Linked DNA regions of Homo sapiens. The protein of the gene in region 1 purifies or fractionates together with the protein of each later gene. This does not show direct contact. Each region holds a gene or a part of one and is shown on either strand. Other genes may lie near its edges.

Region 1 (4,328 bases):
CAGCCTCCCAAAGTTACAGGCATGAGCCACTGTGCCTGGCCTCTATACTTCTTAAGTTATTTTAAAATGTGTAATTAAATTACTATTGACTAGAGTTGCCGTGTTTTGCTACCAAATACTAGATCTCATTCATTCTTTTTTTTTTTGAGATGGAGTCTCGCTCTGTTGCCCAGGCTGGAGTGCAGTGGCGCGATCTTGGCTCACTGCAACCTCTGCCTCCTGGGTTCACACCATTCTCCTGCCTCAGCCTCCGGAGTAGCTGGGACTACAGGCGCCCGCCACCATGCCCAGCTAATTTTTTTGTATTTTTTAGTAGAGACAGGGTTTCACCATGTTAGCCAGGATGGTCTCAATCTCCTGACCTCGTGATCCGCCCGCCTTGGCCTCCCAAAGTGCTGGGATTACAGGCATGAGCCGCCGCGCCCGTCCTCGTTCATTCTATTTTTTGTAGCCATTAACCATCCCCGGTTCTGTGCTTTTGAAGCGCTAGGATTCCAGATTCTTTCTTTTAAAAATTTTATGTTTATTATTTTTTCTTTATTTCTTTTTTCTTTTAATTCATCCATCTGCACACTGAAGGGGTTCCAGATTCTTAGTCTCCTCTCGGGGGATCCCAGGGGGCTGGATGGCAGGTTTCCCAGTCTGAGTCAAGAGTCAGCCCCTGCAGCCCTGTGGTCACCAGGAGCTCCTGCAGGATTTAGAGTCAAGGGTCTGCATGCAGACCAGGGCAGTGCCAGCTACCCCCACACACTGGCAAACGGTGGCATCTGGGCTCCCTCCCCAGATGTGGTCTTTAGGGACATCTTATCTCCTTGCCAGCCCTGTGACTACCTTCTCAGGGCCTCCCTGACTTGGTCACTAGCCCCAGGTCAGGCGCCAGCATGTGCTAAGTCAGAAGGAAGTCAGGCGGGTCTATGGCGGAGAGCCAAGGCTTGGGGACTCACCACCTTGCTGCTTCTCTCCTCAGGATCTTCATCATCTGGGCCATCAGCAGTTGGTTCCGCCGAGGGCCGGCCCCTCAGGACCAGGCGGGCCCCGGAGGAGCTCCACGCGTCGCCAGCCGCAACCTGTTCCCCAAAGACACTTTAATGGTAACTGCCGGGTGGTAGGGCAGACTTGGGAGGTGATGGGGTGTGGAGGGGTGGAATGTGGAGGAGTGATGTCAGCAGTCGGGACAGACCAGGTCCTTGCTCACTGGCAGGTCTAGGAAAACAGGTCCAGGGTTGAGGAACTCTGGGCCCATCCCCAACACGTGAGACCTCTGTCACCTGGGTCCATCCCCAGCACATAAAACCTGTGTCACCCAAAAGAAAAAGCAAATTCATTTGGTTAAAATAGGTTAAATCAGGGTCTTTGGATGTTATATTTCAAAAGTATGTTCAGCCTTTCAGGGTTGCAGAGGGAGATGTGCAAGGGAGAGAGTGTGAGAGGTGGGGAGGGCAGGGAGCCAGCAGAGGCTGACAGGAGGTGGGCCCGGAAGGAGAGGAGACCTGCACTTCCACAGTGGGCTTGGGCACAGGCAGGGCAGGGCTTCAGGAGCCTCCAGAGCAAAAGCATTTAGATCTGTCAGTCTAGGCTTTTCTGAGCAAACATGGCCATTGGGGCTTGAGAAAGGAGGAAGTTCTTGTTGGGTCACAGTGGGTTTTTTTTTTTTTTTTTTTTGAGATGGAGTCTCACTCTGTCGCCCAGGCTAGAGTGCAGTGGCATAATCTTAGCTCACTGCAACCTCTGCCTCCCGGGCTCCAGTGATCCTCCTGCCTCAGCCTCACGACTAGCTGGGATTACAGGCATGTGCCACCACGTCCAGCTAATTTTTTGTATTTTTAGTAGAGATGGGGTTTTACCTTTTTGGTACGCTGGTCTCGAACTCCTGACCTCAAGTGGTCTACCCGCCTTGGCCTCCCAACGTGCTGGGATCACAGGCATGAGCCACCGTGCCCGGTGGCTCACAGTGCTTTTGTAGCTCTGGACTGCTTCGTCCATAAGCCTGCAGAGCTCTGACCAGGAAGGCCCAGCAGCCATGAGGGCAGGAGATCATTCAGGGAGCTCCTGCCCCTTCCTACCCCTAAATTCTAATTGGCAGGCTGGCCAGTCTCCAAGTGTTCTTTGTTCGTTGACTTCACAGGCTCAGACCAGGACAAACATGGTGGTATGAGAAAAGAGAAAATATGTCCTCTCTGCTGCTCTTCCTCTCTCCTCTCCCCTGTCCTCCATAATTACTGTTCCCCTGAGTGTGCTGACCGCTGCCATAGCTCTTTAGCCAGCCTGCAGAGGCTCTGAAGAGCAGGCCTGAGCTCTGTTCCCTTCCTGTCCCAACAGAACCTGCATGTGTACATCTCAGAGCACGAGCACTTTACAGACTTCAACGCCACGTCGGCACTCTTCTGGGAACAGCACGATCTTGTGTATGGCGACTGGACTAGCGGCGAGAACTCAGACGGCTGCTACGAGCACTTTGCTGAGCTCGATATCCCACAGGTGGGGGCAGCTCTCGGTTTCTGGCCCCATGGCTGCTTGACTGGCACTGAAGGACCTTTTCCTCCAGTCCGCTCCTTGCTGAGAGCATGTGGAGTTTGGGCTCCAGGCTTGGCCCTTCCCTGGGCTCACATGGTCTGTGACCACAAGCCAGTCCCTGAGATCTCTGGGCTTCACTTTCCCCTACCTGAAAAAGGTAGATAGGGGTGGAATTGGCCTGGGACCCTCCCAGCTACCTCTAAGGTTGTGCAGTCCTCCACTTTAAACTGGTGAAAGATTAGTAATTGTCCTTGGGGATGTTTGCCTATCACCAGTTTATCAGGCAGCCCCGTTTCAAAATAATATTAGTTAATGTTGATTGAGCTAAGTGCAGGGTACTAAGCTAGGCTGACTCATGGAAATTTCCCGGCAACCCTGTGAAGCAGGAACTGTTATTATTCTCATTTAACATGTGAGGAAACTGAGAGAGAAGGAAAGTGATTTACCCAAGGCCACATCGCATGAGAGATTCAGACTCAGGCTCTACGGCTGTGGACTCTCGCAGCCCTAGGCTCAAATCCAACCTCCTCCAGGAAGCCCTCCCTGACTCACAGAGCACTCAGGCTTGGTTAAGCACCCTCTCTGGGTTCTCACACCTGCTGGGCTTCCCCATCCCAGCCCATTCTGGGGCCTCATTGGGACTCCTGTATGGGACTGTGAGCCTTGTGATAATAAGGCTGGGGCTGCCTAGATCACTTCCATGTCCCCAGCACTGCCCAACGTGGGGCTGGGTGCAGAATCAGCAAGTATTGAACAAGTAAAAGGGACATCTCTCTTTGGGGCCTTCTTCGGCTGAGTCCAAGACAGCTGCCCTCATTCCTTTCTCCCCAGCAGGCCTTCTCAGCTTTGGGGTGGAGGGCACATTTCTGTTCTATTTCTGTCTGGGTAGCTAGAAGCAGAATGTGGACACAGTCATTCTGGTTTTTTTTTTTGTTTTTTGTTTTTTTTTGAGACAGCGTCTCGCTCTGTCACCCAGTCTGGAGGGCAGTGGCGCAACCTTGGCTCACTGCAACTTCACCTCCCAGGTTCAAGCGATTCTCATGTGCCAGCCTCCTGAGTAGCTGGGACTAAGGCACACATGATCACACCCAGCTAATTTTTTTATTTTTTAGTAGAGACAAGGTTTCACTATGTTGGCCAGGTTGGCCTTGAACTCCTGACCTCAAGTGATCCACCTACCTTGGTCTCCCAAAGTGCTGGGATTACAGGCGTGAGACACCGCGTCCAGCCATCATTCTTTTCTTTTTGAGATGGGGTCTTGCTCTGTTGCCTAGGCTGAAGTGCAGTGGTGCAATTACAGCTCACTGCAGCCTCAACCTCCTGGGCTCAAGCAATCTTTTCACCTCAGCCTCCCAAGTAGCTGGGACAACAGGCATGCACCACCATGCCCAGCTAATTTTTTGTAGAGATGGGGTCTCAACATGTTTCCCAGGCTGGTCTCAAACTCCTCTGCTCAAGCGATCCTCTCACCTCAGCCTCTCAAAGTGCTGGAATTACAGGCATGAACCACCCCACCTGGCTGGACTTTCTGACCTGCACTGAGAGGTGACTCCCACAGAGACCTCAAGCCCAGCCCCCAGGCCTTGCCACGAGATCCAAGGAAGGACCAGGGCCTGGCAGGCCCAGCAGGGGGATCTGCTTCCAAGGGCTTGGATCTAAGTCGAAGCTTCAGGGTGGGGTCCAAGTGGACTTAAAAGGCAGGAGAGCTGGGCACAGTGGCATGTGCCTGTAGGCACAGCTACTCAGGAGGCTGAGGTGGGAGAATGGCCAGAGCCCAGGAGTTTAAGACTGTAGTGTGCCATGATCGCAACTGC
Region 2 (4,328 bases), on another chromosome or scaffold:
TTTGCTGAATGTTGGCACTTTGGTCACTTACGTTATTTCAAAAACTACATATGTGTAGGTGACTCTGATCATTTTTATTTATTTCCTTTTCAGCGGAGGAAATATTTGAGAGTGTAGGAGATCGAGAGCTAAGACAAGTCTTTGAAGGACAGAATCGTATTCATCTTGAAATCAAGCAGCTGAACCGGCAGTTAGATATGATTCTTGATGAACAGAGAAGATATGTCTCTTCCTTAACAGAGGAAATCTCTAAAAGAGGAGCAGGAATGCCTGGGCAGCATGGGCAGGTGGGCTTGCAGAATATGCAGATGTGCCCCATTTACCCTTTGCTGGAAGGGAAGTAAAGAAGAAGGGCAACTGTACTATGTGCTCATAGAATGTGGATTATTCAGCTTGCTCGTCATTGTTTCTTCCTCCAGATTACTCAACAAGAACTGGATACTGTTGTGAAAACTCAGCATGAGATTCTGAGACAAGTAAATGAAATGAAGTAAGTATGGAAAAGTAGCGTTTGTGTGTTATGTGATTTTTTTTATCCTAAATTTGTGACTTCAGGTGTGCAAGCACTGTATTGCAAGATTTCTGCATGAGGGTAAGAATCCCGTTCTAGATTCATTTTACAAATAGGGGACCATAAATACAGCAACTTTTAATATTCAAAAACTGCAAACATGTCTAAAGTTTTTAATTGTTTAGAGCTGGAAAAGAAAAAATGTTTTGGCATCTTTTAAAGAGATTTGTCAGTTACTTGACAGAGCCAGGTGTGTTCTTATATTTATAAAATATAAAAAGAATATGAAATAATATATAACACTTTTATGAAAAGTACTAGAGGAATAAATATGTGTAGCATTGTAAGACTATAATACAAGCAGACCTGATGCAGGAAATTCTTTTTGATGGAATGAAACCATTTTGAACGTAATATGTGTGACTACCTCTTTTTCATTCCCATCTTTTACTCTCAGAGAGACTGGACAGAGTTGGAGCAGAGAGGAGATAATTGTGTCCTTAGAATGTTGAACAATAAATTTCTAATGAGAATGATTGACTTATGCAGATAATTAATAGCTTTCAATGCCTGGAGCAGAGATAACAAACCATAGTGTCATGTTTCCATAACCTAACATTTCAGAGCACTGTCCCAACCGATAGAACCCTTGACAAACAAGAATGTCAAGGTGAGTTCTTTAGGACTGGAGAATTAAACAAGGTTAGATCAAACAGAAGGTGATTATACCTGATGTCTAGAGATTAAAGGCACTTAACTTATAACTGCAAATTTATATTTCTTCAATTTTTCTCTTTGCATTTTAAAAAATCTTCATAATCTGAACTCATGATTGAAATATTTATGATGCTAGATGAATAGTTTAGCTCTTCAAATAGTTTAGTTAAATGAATAGAATCCTTTTAGAAATAGACTGGATCATGTAACGCAACCTTTTTAAAAATCTTTTTATTTCGATCTAATTTTAGACCTCAGAAGCTACAGAAATAGTATGGGAAGTTTCTATACATTCTTCACCCATCTTTCTCTAATTTATATAACCATGGTTTAATTGTCAGAACCAGGAAATTAACATTGATACAATTCAATCAACTAAATTAATGACCTATTCAAAATTTATCAGTTTCTCCACCAAGGCCTATTCTATTCCAGGATCCCATCCACAATCGCACATTACATTTAGTTATTTTTTCTCTTTAGCCTTCTGCAGTCTGCAGTAGTTCATCTTCCCTTGTCTTTCATGACCTTGACATTTTCCAAGAGCATTAATCAGTTAATACCTTTTGATTTGGGTTTGGTTGGATGGAAGTTCCACATTTTGATAAGAAGATATTATATATTATAATATGTTATATAATATAATTATATATATTATTATATAAGATTGGTAAGATATTACTGATGATGTTGGCTGTGATCACTCGGTTATGGTGGTTTCCTATTGCTATCTCTACTTTAAAGTTACTGTATTTCCCTTTGTGGTTAGTATTTTGGAGAAGGTACTTTGAGACTATGTAAGTATCCATTTCAACCTTCTGCTCATTCATTTTAGCATCCATTGATGTTTCTTGCCTGTAACAAGAAAGTGGTTTTTGCCAAATGCTGATTTTTTTTTAATTTTTATTTTTATGTATTTATTTATTTATTTTTTTGAGACAGGGTCTAGCTCTGTTGCCCAGGCTGGAGTGCAGTAGTGCAATCACAGCTCTCTGCAGCCTCAACCTCCTGGGCTCAAATGATCCTCCCATCTCAGCCTCCTGAGTAGCTGGGACTACAGGTACATGCCACCACACCCAGCTAATTTTTCTATTTTTTTTGGAGTTGGGATTTTGCCATGTTGCCCAGGCTGATCTCAAACTCCTGGGCTCAAGCAGTCCTCCTGCCTCTGCCTCCCATAGTGTTGGGATTACAGGCGTGAGCCACCACGCCTGGCCCCGATGTTTATATTTCGAAATAATTCCCTCCATATTTGTTCATTGGAATTCTGCTGTCAGGACCAACTATCTTTTCTCTCCCATTTATTTATTTAGTTATTTATTTAGATCAGTTCAGACTCATGGATACTTATTCCATAGGTTACAGTCCAACACTCTCCTTATTTATTTTGCTGCTCAAATTGTTTCAGGTATGGTCATTCTGAGCTCCTTCATGTTGGCATCTTTGTTCTCTCAACAAGCCCTCATCTTTTTTTGAGCATTTTAAAAATTTATGGTACTGCTCTATCTTCTAGGGTCATCTTGTATTTTCTCTGCCCTCAGTGAGCCCTGGTTCCTTTTTCTTGAGAAAGGTATTTGAAAACCAACCTTTGGGCACTAGGTATGCTCATTACTACCGCGGTGCCGTTACCTCTAGGCCTCTTACTGGACAGAGCTAGGGAATATACATATGTATACCAACCCATGCATGTACATGAGTCTGTAGTTCCGTGTCTGTCAACCTACTCTTGTGTTAAACCATGAGATTATGCAGATATTTTGGATTCTGGCTGGACTGAACACTACAGAGTTAATTTTTAACTTTCCCCCTTGTCTTATTTGAAAATTCTTCCTCCAACAGGGAAAAACCTGGTTCTTATTATCTGTATCTATAACATATTTACTTATTGGTTTCACTTGAGTATGCATATAAGTACACACAAAGTGGTTTCAAATTGTTAGCTCGTATCCCTGTGAGAAAGACATTTACTGACAAGTTTATGTAAAGTTCCTTTTATCTCTAGCTTTACAGTATCCAGCCCAGATACTCTTTTCCAGATAGTTTCTTAGTGTAGTTCTCTTTTTCCCTACTCTTTTCATTATGGCTGATATTACTCATTTAGGATCCAGCTAGATTCTTTGTTAATGTTTATATTCCTCCTATATCCTGGTTGATTTAAATTGTTTGTATTTTGGGTATATGAATACTATGGTTCTAAGGGGCAGAGCATGTGTATATCGCTTCTTCATCCTTGCTACCACTTTCCCATCCTCCCCTTCTTTCCAGCTGTTTCCCACCCATTCCCTCTTGGTAACCAATTCTGTTAGCTTCCGGTTTGTTCTTCCTGTATTTCTTCTGCATATACGTATTTTCTTTTTCTTTTCTTTCTTTTTTTTTTTTTCTTTTGAGATGGAGTTTTGCTCTTGTTGCCTAGGCTGGAGTACACTGGTGCAATCTTGGCTCACCGCAACCTCTGCCTCCTGGGTTCATGCGATTCTTCTGCCTCAGCCTCCCGCCTAGCTGGGATTACAGGCACCTGACACCATGCCTGGCTACTTTTGTATTTTTAGTAGAGATGGGGTTTCTCCATGTTGGCCAGGCTGGTCTCGAACTCCTGACCTCAGGTGATCCACGCGCCTTGGCCTCCTAATGTGCTGGGATTACAGGTGTTAGCCACTGCACCCAGCCCATATTTTCTGAAGTCCCTTTCTTTCTTATGTGACGGGTAGCATATTCTAGATACTCTTTTGTGCTTTGCATGTTTTACTTAACAGTAGTACTAGGACATCTAAAGATGTAACTAGTTGTCAGGACGTCCTAGCTGTCCAGTTGTATTATCCATAGAATCCCTTTCTTAGAGGAGTTAACAATCCTTGCAAACTCCCACTTACTGAGAATAAATGTCATGCATACAGTAAGTTAATATAAAAACTGAGCTCAAGTTTCTGAACTAGTGCTCTGGAACTTTTTCTTTAGGATTTAGCTTCAAAAAAAAAATGTAAAGAGATAGAAAATATTTGCCTTTAATGGAAAGGGTAGTTTGTTTCTTTGTGGATTTTTATATTCTTAAGGAATCAAAGAAATTTTTTTTAGCAGAAAGAGATCTTAGAAAGCATGTAGC
Region 3 (4,221 bases), on another chromosome or scaffold:
CAAGTAGCTCGTACACAAAGGGAAAAAGATATACCACATGTACATGGAATAAAGGTAAACCAGACTTTAAAGCTTCTTCATCAGGCCTGATTTCACCTCTGAATCCAAAATATCCTTTGAGTCATGGAGATCCAGCTCATCGGGTTATGTTGGAGAGGCCTAAGGTCACAGTGAGTTTTGGCAGAGCTAGAATGAAAACCTGGGGTTCCAACCTCTTTCCTCTGTTCCCTGGTAGCAAGTTAGGTAACTTCCCGGTTTCTTGGGGAGCCTTGAGTCTGTAAATACTTTGAATGGAAAGCTTTTTTTATTGAGCTAATTAATGGAATTGCCTTTTGGGACCAGAAAGAGCCCAATGAGTGTGCGCATCTGCTTTGCCCCTGCCCAGCTCTCCCTGCAGATGCTGCTCTGCCCCTCTCCTCTGCCTGGTGGGTAGGGATCAGCCCTCTGGATCCTGTCCCTACCCTTTCCATCTCCTCTGAGGTCAGCTAGGCTCAGTAGGCTGGAATTCACACAACGGCCCATACAGACACACACCTGTATTGTGCCTACTCCTTGTGATTGGGGTCATGGTGATGAGGACCCTCCCTTCCCCCTCTTGGTCATGGATAATGTGATATGTCTGTGAGCTTGAGGTGCCCCAGACCACTCTCTGACTTGGGGAGGGAGTCCTGTTGGACTCCACCCCCACGGGGCACTCAGGCTGCTGTTTGCTCATCTAGCTGGTGCTCAAGGCACTGGGCCCAGACCTAGATCCTCATTTGCAAACGGAACCCAGAGGTCGAGCTTGTCAAGCCCTGGGCTCTGCCACCCAGGCCAGCTAGATAGGCTGTGGAATGACCCTGAGGGCTGGAGAAAAGTCAGCAGTTGGGAAATAAACGGTAGGGAAAATGTCCAGACGGAGAACCCAGGTTGATGAGGTACGAAATCAGTGTGGTGATGACATTTTGTTGCCTTCAAGGTGGAAGGGGTTAGCTTTTATTTCATGTCTGAGCCAAAAAGCAACCTTGATCCTGGTTAATAAGCAGAAGAGAAGTGGTGTTGACACATGTATAAGGAAATTAGACATAAAACAGTGTTACTGACCTTCGGAATCCCTGAAGGAGCAAAGAACCCCCTTCAGAGGAGCCATAGAACCTACCCTACTTCCTCCAATTGACCTTGCTGGGTTTTCTCCAAGACGAATGCAAATTCATTTCTCATTCAATTTCATTCTCTTCCAATTGTATTAATACTATGGTAACACATTAGGAAATTACTTACCTATCTAATACATACTAATTAAAGTCGTTAGTGTGGATTTTGTTTTATTATTATTTTTTTTTCAATTATTATCATTATTTTTTTTTTGAGATGGAGTCTCACTTTGTTGCTGGAGTGCAGTGGCATGATCTCGGCTCACTGCAACCTCCACCTCCCAGGTTTCAAGTGATTCTCCTGCCTCAGCCTCCCAAGTAGCTGGGATTACAGGTGTGCGCCACCATACCTGGCCAATTTTTGTATTTTTAGTAGAGACAGGGTTTCACCATGTTGGCCAGGCTGGTCTCGAACTCCTGACCTCAGGTCATCCACCCACCTCAGCCTCCCAAAGTGTTGGGATTACAGGCGTGAGCCACCACGCCCGACTGATTTTTATTTTTATTTTTTGAGATGAGGTTCTCACTTTTGTCCAGGCTGGAATGTAGTGGTGCCATGCCATCACGGCTTACTGCAGCCTTGACTTCCCAGGCTGAAGCAATCCTCTCACCTCAGCCTTCTGGGTAGCTGGTGTGTGCTACAGGTGTGTGCCACCATGACTGGCTATTTTATTTTTCTCGAGGAGACAGGGTTTTGCTATGTTGCCCAGGCTGGTCTCAAACTCCTGGGCTCAAGCAGTGCTTCTACCTTGACCTCCCAAAGTGCTAGGATTATAGGCATGAGCCACTGTGCCTGGCCTAAAGTTGTTAGTATGGATTTTAAATGTCTTACACAGCTTTTACTAGAACTGTGACTGCATGGAATAACGATGGCATTTCACTGCAATTATATATGTTTCTGTTAAAAGGCTGGGTAGATTTCAGTGGGAGCTTGGAAACTGAATCATGATTTATGGCTTTAATATGTGGGTCAGGGCTTTTAAGTTCCAGTGACTGGCTAACATACAAGGAAACTTTTTTTTTTTTTTTTTTTTTGAGACAGAGTCTCCCTCTGTCGCCAGGCTGCAGTGCAGTGGTGTGATCTTGGCTCACGGCAAGCTCCGCCTCCCAGGTTCACGCCATTCTCCTGCCTCAGCCTCCCAAGTAACTGGGACTACAGGCGAGCACCACCACGCCCAGCTAATTTTTATACTTTTAGTAGAGATGGGGTTTCACCATGTTGGCCAGAATGGTCTCGATCTCTTGACCTCGTGATCTGCCCGCCTCAGCCTCCCAAAGTGCTGGGATTACGGCGTTAGCCACCGCACCCGGCCCATACAAGGAAACATTTTAAACACAATTTTTATTAGTGCCATCCTATGCCTTGTAGACTTTAAGGGATAACACAGTTATGGAGTGACAAGTAACTAGAGCCTGTAAGAGACTAAAGCCTCATTAATGTGATGCCTGCCTGATATTATTCCCCATTTTGGTTATTACGACATTGTAGGAAAACTTATCAAATTATTCTTTGAAAAGTGTATAACTTAACATTTCTATAGGTGTAGATGCCCCTGATCCAGGTGCAGACCCGCTGGCTAGCAGTGTGAACGGCATGTGCCTGGATATTCCTGCTCACCTGAGCATCCGCATCCTCATCTCGGATGCTGGCGCGGTGGAAGGGATTACTCAGCAGGAGATACTCGGTGTAGAGACAAGGTATGATCACATCTTGGATCACCGTAGTTTAGAGAGAGTCAGGAAAGTTGAGAGCATCCCAAACAATAGGGAAATGTTTATTTAGAAACTGATTGTTTATTTACAACTTGCAATTATTAGCAAGATGTTTATATGCACATATGGAATATGTACGAACTATGTGTATAATGGAGACTTATTCTCACAAGTATTTATAAAGCCATATGTAAGAGAGTCTGCAAGTTATTTTAGGGAGTACAAAGATGAATAAAGGGCCCCTTAGTACTAAGTATATTTTGAAATCCATGGATGTAACTGATAATCTGATCAGAGAATATTGTCTGTGGTTAGAGACTTTGGCAGCAGATAGGTTCAAATCATGGCTGTCCTACTTAGGAGCTGTGTGACACTGGCCAATTACTTAACCTTTCTGAGCTGTAGTTTCCTCCTCTGTAATATGGTGATAATACCTTTATGTATCAAGCCTCCATCAGTTTTTTTTTTTTTTTTTTTTGAGACAGAGTCTTGCTCCGTCTCCAGGCTGGAGTGCAGTGGCAATATCTTGACTCACTGCAACCTCCAACTCTCTAGTTCAAGCGATTCTCCTGCTTCAGCCTCCCGAGTAGCTGGGATTACAGGCACGTGCCACCATGTCCAGCTAATTTTTGTATTTTTAGTAAAGACAGGGTTTCACCCTGTTGGCCAGGATGGTCTCAATCTCCTGACCTCATGATCCGCCCGCCTCGGCCTCCCAAAGTGCTGGGATTACAGGCATGAGCCACCGCGCCCAGCCTGCCTCCATCGGTTTTAAGTGACAGGCGCCCAGTTCATACTGACTTAAGCAAAAAGGGGAGTTTATTGGTTCAAGTTCAGAGTAATCCACATACAGCTAGTTCATGGTTCATGGTTCCAGTGTGGTCAGGGATCTTTTTGTTTTCGTATCTCAGCTCCTCTTCCTTTGGGTTGGCTTCATTCTCAGGGAGGTTCTCCTCAAGAGATGGCAAAGATCAGCACCAGCAATCCAGGCTTATGTCACTGCAGCAAGTCCAGTGGGGAGAAAGCCCCTTTCCTCCTCTTTCCTTTCTTTCTTTCTTTTTTTTTTTTTTGAGACGGAGTTTTGCTCTTGTTGCCCAGGCTGGAGTGCAGTGGTGCCATCTTGGCTCACTGCAACCTCCACCAACCGGGTTCAAGCGATTCTCCTGCCTCAGCCTCCTAAGTAGCTGAGGTTACAAGCATGTGGCACCTCGCCTGGCTAATTTTGTATTTTTAGTAGAGATGGGGTTTCTCCATGTTGGTCAGGCTGGTCTTGAACTCCCAACCTGAGGTGATCTGCCTGCCTCAGCCTCCCAAAGTGCTGGGATTACAGGCATGAGTCACCGTGCCCGGCCCCTCCTCTTTCTCAAAATAGATC
Region 4 (4,328 bases), on another chromosome or scaffold:
GTGTTGTGGTCCAGCTAGATGTTCTAAACTCATTTTATTCATTTCCTGTTCCAGACATGTTGTCAACCATTCTTTTCTAGGAGCCCTGATTCCTTTTTGTTGGCGATGGTATATAGTAACTACAGTCTAGAGGTGCTCATGATTATGAAGTTGCTCATTGTTTTATGGCCTTTTCAATGAACAGAGCATCTTACGTATTTTCTGCTCCAGCCCTCAAGTCAGCCATTTCTCCAAGGAACCCTGGCTTCCTTCAGTAGAGAATGATGTTTAGAAATGACGATTTGGGCACTGTGTTTGCTCATTGTTACTGGGGTGACATGACTCCTGGTTCTTAGTGAACTGAGCTGGGAAATAGATGTATGTATACACGCACAGCTGTTTCTGGATCTTGATATGATATTAAAAATCATTGACCACTTCTTAATACCTCAGAATCTAGTACAATACTACAGAATTTCTTCTGGCTTTCTCGTTTTCCATATTTGCAGCTTGCTTCTCTGACAGAGATCAGTGAGAGATCTCATTATAAAAATATGTGTCTAATAATTAATGTTGATTCACTGTTTTAAATTTTTATATTTTTGTTTGTTTGCTCTTACCAACACAGTTTCATTTATCACTGTCATATGTATATCAGGCACCAGTCTCTTTTATGGTTTTCCTAACTTAATTTCTCATTCTTTCCTTCCTCTAACTTTCAATTCTTTATTTTCTTGCAGAACTGCGAAAATTAATGTATATAATATGTTCTCATTTGTGTAAATTAGATATGCATATACACACGTATAACAAGTATGTGCACAGCAAGTTTTCTAGGATACCTAAGATATAGCTAGCTGAGTAGCTTTGGATAAAGGGACCTAAAAACGGATGCAGAGTGTGGTAGAGACTATTGTTGTTCATACATAAGTTTCTGTATGAACTTTTAGTCATTTGCCTATATTCTTTTTTTTTTTTTTTTTTTTTAAGTTACGGTAGTTTTCAAAACACTGTCATGTCTGGTTTGGTTTGGTTGGCTAGGAAGATTAATTTATATAAATTTGTCTTCAGAATTTGTGCATGAGGTGTCCATGCTTCCAAAATGAAAAATAGTAAATAATGATGACTTTTTTTTTTTTTTTAATTGAGGCAGGGTCTCACTCTGTTGCCCATGCTAGAGTGCAGTAGTGTGATTTCAGCTCACTGCACCCTCCACTTCCCGGGCTCAGGCAGTCCTCCTGGGTCAGCCTCCCGAGTAGCTGGAAGTACAGACGTGAGGCACTATGCCTGGCTAATTGTCTGCATTTTTTGTAAAGGCAGGGTTTTGCCATATTGCCAGTGATCTGTCCACCTTGTCCTCCCAAAGTGTTGGGATTACAGGTGTGAGCCACCATACCCAGCCTCCAGGGATATTTTTTAAATTATGAATAAATTTGCGTGAAATCTTACAAAGAAATTTAAATTGAGTAATACATATTTAACTCCTAAAAAGAGTTTGTTGAAAAAAAAATTACCGTATAATACCTAGTGGTTCTATGCTAAGCACTTACATAAATTATTTATTTAATTGTTATGGTAATCCTATGAGGTGCCTATATTATTTCTGTCTCTATTTCGTAAATAAGGTAACAGACTCAGAGAGCTGAAGTAACTGCTCAAGGGCTACAAGTAATAAGTGGTAGAGTCTGTATTCATACTTATCTAATTTTGGAGTCTCCATTTCTAACCTTACCACATTATTTTAAAAAAATTATAGCAGAATAGATTCTTCTGTGAAATGTAATTCAGTTCTGAATTGTTGATTTTTTGATCCAATAATACCTTATGAAAAGACAGAAGTTATATTTTTACTCCCCAATGGAAGACATCATTTTTAGTCATTGTAAGATGTATTTATTAGAAGAAATCTGAATATTACATGTGTAGAGGATTTGGGGGTAAAAACACTATTAAAGTACCCACAATTTAAAAAATTCTACCTTTTTCCAATCTAGAGCCTGTTAGAAGTACTGTACTACATTGCTTCATTAAGTACCATGAGTGTAAAATAATAACCTAATTATTGTTGGCTAAGAATCTGGCATAAAAGGCTCTTATAAATCATATTTTAGTATTAAACTTCACATAATAATAATAATAATGGTAGTTAATATTTACTAGTCATTTACTTTGTTTTGAGTACTGCATTGGATTACCTTGCTTATTCCTTTCAACAGTCCTATGAAGGTAGTACTATTGTTTTTGTTTTATAGCCCATTAAGCTCAGACTTAAGGAGGTTATATAACTGCCTAGGGCTTCACAGTAGTGATGAAAGTGGATTATGAGCCCTTACTCCAAGTTGTTTTTACCACTCATACTTTTAACATAGACAAAGTGGTATTTGAAACAAAAAGTGAATCATGAAACTTCTTTTTAGTGAATTTTCTTTATGGGTATATATTCTTTTATTCCCTTTAGGTTCACAATATTCTTGCAGAAATGGTGATGGGGGGAATGGTATTGGAGACAAATATGAATGAGATTGTTACACAAATTGATGCACAAAATAAGCTGGAAAAATCTGAGGTAAGAATGGAAAATGCTGTAGTTAAGAAGGTTCTAAGCATGATGACAGATTACGCATGATTTGTAGTTTTCACTGTTTGTCCTTCAGTATCACCCTTTAGGTTCAGCCGTTATGCTTATTCAGTTTTTAAAAAATGGAATATACACGTAGTATGCTAAAGGTTCTGTGACTGTTCTCTACCCAACAGCTTTGTGTATTCTTCTTTTAGCCACAGTCATAGCTGCCTTGGGTAATAAGCACAATTCCAAATCTTATTGCCTAAAAGAATTATCTGAATAATGGAATCTAATATTTGCTTTGTAAAACTTCAGTCGGTAATTATCAAGGAAATCTTAGAACTAATATTTTAAAGATATATAAATTTTGTGTTACAAAACTACTTCTGGAAAGGGAAAGGACAGGAAATGGAATTCTTACAGGGAAGTAAGTAATGTTTCAAGTTATTAATAAATGCAAAATAAATATTTTGAATGTTTGAGTTCACATTCAAAAAAGAAATTCAATACCTTAATCTTTTAATTCTAAATCTTTCCCTAAGATTTCACTGACAAGTTAGTTAAGTCACATATTTTAGACATTAGTACATATATATCCATGGTCTTTATTGCATTCTATAAGATCGGTTTGTTATACTTAGCTAACTTTCTGCTGTTAGATTCAACCTTAGATGGGATAAATGAGGAACAGCCAGCACTTTAGCATTGTATAAAACCCTACTTCAGAATTGTAGTGACTCTTCCCTCAAGCACTAGTCTGAATATCAGTAGCAGGTGCTGTAGCTGAGCCACCTGGGTTCACATTATTTTGGTTGTTTATTACCCTAGCAGAGGTTTAGAAAGATCAGTAGTTTTATCATTTGAGTTCAGGAGTTCGAGACTAGCCTGGCCAACATGGTGAAACCCCATCTCTACTAAAAAAATAAAAATAAAAAATAAATAAATTAGCTGGGCACGTAGAGCGCACCTGTAATCCCAGCTACTCGGGAGGCTGAGGCACAAGAATCACTTGAACCCCGGAGGTGGAGGTTGCAGTGAGCCGAGATCACATCACTGCACTCCTGGGCAACAGAGTAAAACTTCATCTCAAAAAAAAAAAGAAAGATCAATAATTTTGATATCTCATTCACCACCCAACTTGTTTGAGGATACTCTTACATTTGGTATTTGCAGTCATAACTCAGATTGGAAAAAACAGACTTTATTTTTATAATTATTAGTGTTAAGCTCAGATGTTTCGTTGATTTAAAGTAAATATTACTTTGAAAGCATCAAGGTTTTAAAAATACACTGGCATTAATTTACAACAGGTGAGTTCTGAAAAATTTTACCTTGTTGGCATTTTAAAGGATCAGTTTAACTCAATTCAATTCTGTGTCCATTTTAATTGAAGAAAACACAGGGTGAAGAATAAATCTCAAATCTAGAAACAGTTGAAGCTTATAAAACATTTTCCAGTGTTCTCTTTTAAATTTAAAATAGTCTTGCATTTTTCTTTATCTCAATTTCCCATTCCTGTTGGTTTCCCAAAGGAGAAGTTTATAGTGGTGATTTAGAGCTAAGATTATCTTAACTAACTATATGTTTTGTTTGTCCTATAGCCAATTTTTAAAATATTGGCTTTTGAAAGTGGAAAACATAAATTAGGTTAATAGAGAAAATTTTGTTTTAGGACAAGGAAAAAGACTCATAATTTAATTTAGTATAACTGACTTGCAATATATTATTTAGTAAAGAAAAGATTATTATAAACCCTGAGCTATTGCTTTTAAAGTCTTAAAAGAAC

Evidence for each region.
Region 2: the proteins of CLPTM1 (region 1) and LMAN1 purify together in Homo sapiens (affinity purification with mass spectrometry, with the first as the bait; one large-scale study listed by BioGRID). This does not show direct contact.
Region 3: the proteins of CLPTM1 (region 1) and TCTN2 purify together in Homo sapiens (affinity purification with mass spectrometry; one large-scale study listed by BioGRID and IntAct). This does not show direct contact.
Region 4: the proteins of CLPTM1 (region 1) and AP3S1 purify together in Homo sapiens (affinity purification with mass spectrometry; one large-scale study listed by BioGRID and IntAct). This does not show direct contact.

What each region holds. Positions count from the first base shown.
Region 1 is NC_000019.10:44,972,120-44,976,447, forward strand, and holds part of CLPTM1 (putative lipid scramblase CLPTM1), read left to right. Parts: intron 1-967; coding exon 968-1,091; intron 1,092-2,319; coding exon 2,320-2,478; intron 2,479-4,328. UniProt on the Homo sapiens protein: Involved in GABAergic but not glutamatergic transmission. Binds and traps GABAA receptors in the endoplasmic reticulum (ER).
Region 2 is NC_000018.10:59,334,719-59,339,046, reverse strand, and holds part of LMAN1 (protein ERGIC-53 precursor), read left to right. Parts: intron 1-93; coding exon 94-287; intron 288-419; coding exon 420-490; intron 491-4,328. UniProt on the Homo sapiens protein: Mannose-specific lectin. May recognize sugar residues of glycoproteins, glycolipids, or glycosylphosphatidyl inositol anchors and may be involved in the sorting or recycling of proteins, lipids, or both.
Region 3 is NC_000012.12:123,701,858-123,706,078, forward strand, and holds part of TCTN2 (tectonic-2 isoform 1 precursor), read left to right. Parts: intron 1-2,674; coding exon 2,675-2,831; intron 2,832-4,221.
Region 4 is NC_000005.10:115,900,448-115,904,775, forward strand, and holds part of AP3S1 (AP-3 complex subunit sigma-1), read left to right. Parts: intron 1-2,437; coding exon 2,438-2,545; intron 2,546-4,328. UniProt on the Homo sapiens protein: Part of the AP-3 complex, an adaptor-related complex which is not clathrin-associated. The complex is associated with the Golgi region as well as more peripheral structures.